Regions from separate parts of the Homo sapiens genome. Here region 1 is linked to region 2. The links come from fine-mapping of genetic effects on gene expression. Tissue or cell type: pancreas. Region 2 holds a variant in brackets; the other region holds the start of a gene. All regions are shown on one strand. Distances are between the middles of the regions.

The links. PIP is the estimated chance that this variant, and not a neighbour inherited with it, causes the effect. A credible set is the group of variants that fine-mapping cannot tell apart.
Region 1: LHFPL5 starts here. The variant in region 2 is the best candidate, but not a certain one, in a credible set for the expression of LHFPL5 in pancreas (GTEx, PIP 0.75).

Annotation. Positions count from the first base shown.
Region 1 is chr6:35,803,157-35,807,156 of GRCh38, forward strand. LHFPL5 (LHFPL tetraspan subfamily member 5) reads left to right here and starts at 2,196. Exons shown (of 4, transcript NM_182548.4): 1 at 2,196-2,926. The coding sequence starts at 2,515. RefSeq lists a silencer at 2,065-2,234.
Region 2 is chr6:35,841,113-35,845,638 of GRCh38, forward strand. SRPK1 (SRSF protein kinase 1) reads right to left here. Exons shown (of 16, transcript NM_003137.5): 14 at 1,423-1,492. Among named protein-coding and RNA genes, the nearest start is that of LHFPL5, 38 kb to the left of the region's middle. RefSeq lists a silencer at 1,987-2,142. The variant G/A (reference allele first, on the strand shown) is at 1,982.

The DNA of each region.
Region 1 (4,000 bases), 38 kb before region 2:
ACTCAGGAGGCTGAGGCAGGAGAATCAGTTGAACCAGGAAGGTGGAGGTTGCCGTGAGCCAAGTTCGCGCCACTGCACTCCAGTCTGGGCAACAAGAGCAAAACTCTGTCTCAAAGAACAAAAAACAAAACAAAACAAAAAACTAGCTGGGCATGGCAGTGCATGCCTGTAATCCCAGCTACTTGGGAGGCTGAGACAGGAGGATCGCTTGAACCAGGGAGGCGGAGGTTGCTGTGAGCCAAGATCATGCCATTGCACTCCAGCTTGGGCAACAAGAGTGAAACTCTGTCTCAAGAAAAGTAAAATAAAAATAAAATAAAATAAAATAAAATAAAATTGTACATACATCATCCAATTGTGTAAAGGAGTATGTTCAGAAGGGGGAAACTGCAGAGATTAACAATGGTAATAATAATAATCACCAACATTTTTGAGTACTTTCTCTTTTTTTGTTAAAGCCCAGACTGGAGTGCAGTGGTGTGATCATGGTTCACTGCAGCCTCGACCTCCTGGGCTCCAGTGATTCTCCCACCTCAACCTCCCAAGTAGCTGCGACTACAGGCAAGCACCACCATGCCTGGCTATGCCTGGCTAAGTTGTGTATTTTTTGTAGAGACGGGAGTCTTGCTATGTTGCCCAGGCTAGTCTAGAATTCCTGAGCTCAAGTGATCGGACTGCCTGGCCTCCCAAAGTGCTGGGATTAGAGACCACTAATGTACCTTTGAGCACTTTAAAAAAAAAATTATTATTATTATTTTTTGAAATGGAGTTTTGCTCTTGTTGCCCAGGCTGGAGTGCAATGGTGCGATCTCAGCTCACTGCCACCTCTGCTTCCCGGGGTTCAAGCAATTCTCCTGTCTCAGCCTCCTGAGTAGCTGGGAATACAGGCACCCGCCACTACGCCCGGCGTAAGTGCATTTCCTGCATTTAATAGATGGCGAAACTGAGGCTCCGGAAGGAAGGTTAAGTCCATGGATGGTTACTTAGTAAGTAGCTCATTCAAATCCAGGCCTGTTGAACCCCAAAGTCCATGTTTTTAAGATTGTCTTGTCTTTCCTTAGCTCCGGACGTTGGTGTTATTATTATTATTATTTTTTTTTTTTTGAGACGGAGTCTTGCTCTGTCACCCAGGCTGGAGTGCAGTGGCGCGATCTCGGCTCACTGCAAGCTCCGCCTCCCGAGTTCACACCATTCTTCTGCCTCAGCCTCCCCAGCAGCTGGGACAACAGGCGCGTGCTGCCACGCCCGGCTAATTTTTTTGTATTTTTAGTAGAGACGGGGTTTCACTGTGTTAGCCAGGATGGTCTCGATCTCCTGACCTCATGATCCGCCTGCCTTGGCCTTCCAAAGTGCTGGGATTACAGGCGTAAGCCCCACGCCCAGTGGAATTTTCCTAGTTCTTTACACTAGCCATGTATTTACCTATAAAATCAGGAGAAATATGTATATATATAATATATTAAAACATATATATATTTAAATGGGGAAATATGTAACAAACAAATAGAAACAAGGGGAGAAAGGCATTGTATTTGACAAAACACATATGTTCAGGTCTGAGAAGGCTCATAAAGAATGTTGTCTGCTATACTTTGTAGTTGCTTCTGTTATCACACAATCAGTCTGCATATACAGGCGTTTTATATATATATTTATATAGACTACATATATACGTATATTATATATGTAAATATTTCACTGTCTTTGAGGACGGGGGCCCTGTCTTTTTTATCTGTGGTTTTGCTTAGATGTCCTCCAACATAATCTTAACACATAGTATGCTTTTAGAAATCGTTGACTGAATGCTAAGGACGAAAAACCGGTGACCAGAAGGCAACCAGGAAAGGCTTTGCTGACCTCCGGAGTGGTGGAGTTGGAGGTTCTGGGAAGGCGACTAGGGAGCCAGGCAGGGGCGGGGTGGGATGGGATGTGGACAGCGCTTTTGCGGGGGGAAAGCGTTTTTGCTGCTGGAATTGAGCAGTAGGAATGTGTCAGTCACATCCCCACCTTCCCAATTCTTGTCATCTCGGTTCAGGAAGGTGAACGGTGTTCCGATTCCCCGCGGCGGGGGCCTGTAGTGGGAGCTCTGCCCCTTCCCCGCCTCTGCTGCAGGCCCCGCCCCTCGCCCGGAACCCCGGGGCGCTGGCCGCGGTGCTGAAACGGCGCCCTCCGCGGACGGAGGAGGGGGCGGGGCTCTCGGGAGCCGTGAGCCGGGAAGAGGGAGACGGGCAGGGCGGCGCCAGCAGGCCCTGGTGGGCTTGGGAGGAGGCAGGAGACTGGAGACAGCCTCGGCTAGAGCGGACACAGGCACCTGGCAAGCTTTCCTTGACCAAATCAAGGTTGTCCTTGTCCTATTAAGCCTCTTCCCCTTGCCTTGAAGGGACCTCACCTGGTGCCCTGACCTCAGCCTCCTCCCCAAACCCCGCTGGGGAGTGACCTGCTTCTAGGCCTCCATCCACAAAGCTACGGACTTGCAGCCCACGGGACCCCAGCCCAGGGCCTGCTGCCCTCACCATGGTGAAATTGCTGCCGGCCCAGGAGGCAGCCAAGATCTACCATACCAACTATGTGCGGAACTCGCGAGCCGTGGGCGTGATGTGGGGTACCCTCACCATCTGCTTCTCCGTACTGGTCATGGCCCTCTTCATCCAGCCCTACTGGATCGGCGACAGCGTCAACACACCGCAGGCAGGCTACTTCGGCCTTTTCTCCTACTGCGTGGGTAACGTGCTGTCCTCCGAGCTCATCTGCAAGGGCGGCCCCCTAGACTTCTCCTCCATCCCCTCTAGAGCCTTCAAGACTGCCATGTTCTTTGTGGCCTTGGGCATGTTCCTCATCATTGGCTCCATCATCTGCTTCAGCCTGTTCTTCATCTGCAACACGGCCACAGTCTATAAGATCTGTGCATGGATGCAGCTGGCTGCGGGTAAGCAGAGATGGTGGGAGGGCAGGCAGGGGCCCACCCCGGGGCCACAGCTGCAGCTGCACCATCCCAGCCTCTGCCAGGGCTCTGGGCCTTAAATTTAGCTGTTCTCCTATAGCCCAGTCCTACTCAGTGCTCTGCAGAAGATTCTGAGGAGTTGAGAATCTTAAAATGGCAGAGGCAGAAAAGACCTTAGAGACCAAGCTGTCCAACCCTCTCATCCTACAGATGAGGTTCTGAGCCCAGAACCTCATCTGAGCCCAGAACCTCATCTGTAAGGGGAAGTGACTTGCCCAGGAGCACACAGTTGCCAGTCCTGATTCCCAGGCCATCACATCAGTTTTTGCAGCTGTGAGAGAGAGAAAGAAGGAAGCTTCCATTGTTGGCCATGTGGGAATAGGACTCAACCCTAGCACAAAGTAGTGACACCAGTCAAGCACATTCTAGATGCCTTCATCTCCCACCTCTGGGCTTTTGTTCTTTTTAAGAGTGCCCAGAACTCTGTCCTCATTCTCTCTCTCCCACTCCAAACTGCTCTCAGATTCTAAGGTCTCTTGCTGATTTTGGAGTGTTACTATTATGCAGGGTATGACCTTGCCTATAGAAACTTTCATCTAAATTCCCCTCTTTCATTGTGGAGTGAAAGTCTTTTTTCCTTGATCATGGGATTTTATACTTAAGGCAGCAAATGGAGTGATATTTTGTGAGGTAGAGGAAGCTATTTAGGGTCCTTTTGTTGTTGTTGTTGTTTGTTTGTTTTTTGAGACAGAGTCTCACTCTTTGGCTCAGGCTGGAGTGCAGTGGCATGATCTCAGCTGACTGCAGCCTCAACCTCCTTGGACTTAGGTGATCCTCTCACATCAGCCTCCCAAGTAGCTGGGACTCCAGGTGCGCACCACCATGTCTAGCTAATTTTTTTTGTATTTTTTGTAGAGACGGGGTTTTGTCATGTTGCCCAGGCAGGTCTTGAACTGCTGGGCTCAAGTGATTTGCCTGCCTCAGTCTCCCAAAGTGTTGGGATTTCAGATGTGATCCACAGCACCTGGCCTAGGGTCCTTTAAAACAATGTGGGGGCTG
Region 2 (4,526 bases):
CCAAACACTGTAAGCCTATAACCCTAAACCTATAACCCAGAAAAATAGCAAGCAGAGAGTAGGTAAAATCAAGTAGTAATTATAGTATCCTCTAACATGGGGCTTATATATACAAAATATGTCCAAACTCTACCCACTTAAATAGGCATTCATGGGAATTACATAGCATAGCATTTTCCAAATGGTATTCATTAGGAATATTAGCAGGTCCTACTAACATTACCTATTAATATCCCAGAAGACCACATTTTGAGAAACAAAGAGCACTCTTGGTTCCATACAGCATGAAATATGCATTCCCAAAGATTCAAGGAAAGCACAAAAAGTAAAGAACATGCTCTACATTGGGAGGGTAGATGCTGTAGTGATATCTCAAAATAATCCTCATTAATCCTACAACTAAAACATAAGCTGCCTCAACTGTATAAAACATTTTCTTGGCTGAGCGTGATGGCTCACGCCTGTAATCCCAGCACTTTGGGAGGCTGAAGTGGGTGGACCACGAGGTCAAGAGACAGAGACCATCCTGGCCAACATGGTGAAACCCCGTCTCTACTAAAAATACAAAAATTAGCTGGGCATGGTGGCACAAGCCCGTAGTCCCAGCTACTCGAGAGGCCGAGGCAGGAGAATCGCTTGAACGAGGGAAGTGGAGGTTGTAGTGAGCCGAGATCGCACCACCGCACTCCAGCCTGGCGACAGAGTGAGACTCCGTCTCAAAAAAAAAAAAAAAAAAAAAAAAAATCACAAAACCATTTTGTTTGTTCATTCAAATTATTAACTCATTTAGTTATCTGGATGCCATCATAATAGAAAAATCAGACACACACAGTTGCTGCTTCCACAGTCTCTCAGACAAAGTAACTGGCAGCCTAGGCTTTTCCCACTGGCTACCACAACATGTAAATCCATTCTACTTTGTTTTAAAATGGAATTCCAAAAAAGAAAAAATTAGTTTTATATTCAGAAAAGGGAAAAAAGAATGCTAAATTTTGGCAGAATTTATAGAAATAGGATATAGTCTCTGCATTCAAGTAGTGTGTGTATATTAAAATAACTGACCTCTAAATAAATTTGGAGGCATAATTGAGCAACAGGTTGATGAGCAGGTAAAAAACTGGGTAAAGAATGAACCACTGATATATACAGAAAGGAAGATAACTAGATGTTGAAGAAAAAATTGTCCAGCACACAGAAGTTTTAGGTGAACTGTGGCCTTTTGACTCTGACAGAGCTCTTTAGTATCTTTCAGAAAATATCTAAAAACCTAATATAAAATGTCTTTTATATTTCTAACTTTTCTGGGATTTACATGTTTTGCACACTAACAAGACTAAGGCTCTTCGGTACTAACAAATGATGTTAGCTTAATGTGGAAAGTGTAAATACCACGCACACACATCCATGGTTAAGGGGACTCACCTTCATCTCGAGTGTACTCTTCCCCTGAATGAGGTTCAAACAAATAGTCACCTGTGGCCAGTTCAAAGGCCTAAAAAAAAAAGAGGACAGTATATGAAAGCACAAAAGAAAAGAAGGCCTTTGGAAAGCTGATTGCTATTTGGCTCAATATGAAGTAACTCTTGTTCCCTTGGGAAAACTTATAGATCATTTAAAAAAAAAAAAAAACAAAAACTTAAGATTATTCCTAAAGCATTCCTTCCACATCCCTATCTTAATAAAATGGAGAAAACAGCAAAGACTCAGTAAATACTAACATGTGGGTTATTTCATGCCCAAACCTCCCCACCCTAAACCCTAGCAATTCAGCCCTCCTGAGTTTCCCTTTTTTGGCCGGAAAGGGGCATACCTGGATATTAAGGTGATTCTAAGTTATTATTCATGAGAAGAACAGGTCTTTTTTTTTTTTTTTTGAGACGGAGTCTCACTCTGTTGCTTAGGCTGGAGTGCAGTGGCACGGTCTCGGCTCACTGCAAGCTCCGCCTCCTGGGTTCACACCATTCTCCTGCCTCAGCCTCCC[G/A]AGTAGCTGGGACTACAGGTGCCCACCACCACGCCCAGCTAATTTTTTGTATTTTTAGTAGAGATGGGGTTTCACTGCGTTAGCCAGGATGTTCTCAATCTCCTGACCTCGTGATCTGCCAACCTTGGCCTCCCAAAGTGCTGGGATTACAGGTGTGAGCCACCACGCCCAGCCCAGGTCTTTCTTACATTATAATCACACATGGCTAGAAATTGAGATTCTGTACCAAACAAAAAAAATCAAAAAAAAAAAAAAATTCAGACTTCTACTTATGACTCTTTAGTGTTTGACAAGTACATCATTAACTTTTGCATAGGAAGTACTCCCTAGATTGTCCCAGATGGGAAGTTCCTGATTCCTAGGTCCTTTGTTTTTGAGATGGAATCTTGCTCTGCCGGCCAGACTGGAGTGCACTGGCATGATCTCAGCTCACTGCAACTTCTGCCTCCTGGGTTCAAGTGATTCTCCTGCCTCAGCCTCCGGAGTAGCTGGGACTACAGGTGCATGCCACCACGCCCAGCTAATTTTTGTATTTTTAGTAGAGATGGGGTTTTACCATGTTGGCCAGGATGGTCTCAATCTCTTGACCTCATGATCCACCCGCCTCTGCCTCCCAAAGTGCTGGGATTACAGGCGTGAGCCACCATGCCTGGCCAATTCGTAGGTCTTTAGAAAATCAGAAGATTAAGTGTAAAGGGAGTCAGGAGCCTAGCCTATGTGACTGGCAAGTCAGCACTCCCTAATTAGGAAAAGAAAAGCCTGTCTCCTTTAATAGAAAAACCTCTTACAGTGCTCGAGAGTGTCTTAGGAAATGATATCCTTGGGAATAAGTGCCATGCAGAATGAAAAGCAGGGCTACATAAATCCTCACTGATTACAAATGGAGTTTTAAAAATTAGTACACAACAGCAGTTTTTTTTTTTTTTTTTTGGATGGAGTCTCGCTCTGTCGCCCAGGCTGGAGTGCAGTGGCACAATCTCGGCTCACTGCAAGCTCCGCCTCCCAGGTTCATGTCATTCTCCTGCCTCAGCCTCCCCAGTAGGTGGGACTACAGGTGCCCGCCACCAAGCCCGGCTAATTTTTTGTATTTTTAGTAGGACAGGGTTTCACCATGTTAGCCAGGATGGTCTCGATCTCCTGACCTCGTGATCCGCCTGCCTCGGCCTCCCAAAGTGCTGGGATCACAGGTGTGAGCCACCACGCCTGGCCAACAGCAGTTTTAAAAAATGACCTTATTGATAGGGAAGCACAGTTATAAAATAAGCGCTAGTCATAGGTCAATTTTGATTAAATCAATGGTACTAAGCAGTCCAAACAACCTCAAGAACTGTAGAGTCCAGGACTTAGTTGGGGCATATTCTCAATTTAGACCCAAGTTTAGGTCCTGGTGGCTCACCAGTGTCAGTTTCTGCAGTTTCATGACAGAACAGCCTTTCTCAAAACTGTACTACCGTCCAGAGGGAGACCACAAAACCAGAAGTTTCAGGATAGGTTTAGGAATCAAATACTATCTCTAAATGTCAGCAGTGCTATGGCTTCTTGCTTGGCATTGCTTATTTTACATTTCAGTTGTTTATTAAGAAACTGAACCACAGTGATAGAGCAGATACTTGTTCTACCCTGAGTTGTTCCGAGGTTTATAGTCCCAAAGCAACAGAGAAACAAATCATGATTCTTGTTCACCAAAACTTGTCAATCATTCCTGATACCAGTACTTTAAAAAAAAATCTCATGGTCTCATATATAGAGTTCAGTAAAAATACTGAAATTAAAGTTAAAAAAAACAAAAAACAAAAAACACAGAGCCAGCCGCGGCAGTGCTATACGCCTGTGGTCCCAGCTATTCAGGAGGCTAGAAAATGAAATACTCTTCAGTGCTAAAAAGAAATGAGCTATTAAGCCGTGAAGATATGGAGGAACCTTAAATGCATATTACTAAGTGAAAGAACCTAATCTAAAAAGGCTACATACTGTATGATTCCAACTATTTGACATTATGGAGACAATAAAAATATCAGTGGTTGCCAGCGAGTGGGGGACGGGAGGGATGAATAGGCAGAGCACAGAGGAGTTTTAGAGCAGTGAAACGATATTGTATATAATAATGATAGATACATTTGTCAAAACTTCTAAAAGAGTGAAATGAAATGTAAACTACTGACTTTGGTTAATAATGATGTGCCAATGTAGGTTCATTGTTTGTAACAAATGTATCACTCTGGAGCAGCAGATCGACAGTTGGGGAGGCTCTGTGTGTGGGGAGCATATAAAACTTATTTGTACTTTTTGTTCAATTTTTCTGTGAACCTAAAACTGCTCTAAAAAATAAAGTCTATTAAGAAACAAACCCAAATAAAACCAGTGTACCATCCTTTGTTAACCTTCTCTAGACTATTGCCTTTGAGAAGAATGGCTTAGAAGATAGCATGAAATGCATGGAAAAGTTAAAACAATGACAATTTAAACAGACTAATTACATTCAGATCCAGAAGTAAATTGCAAACTCCAGGTAGCAGAAAGGAATACTGACACAGCTTGAGGGGCA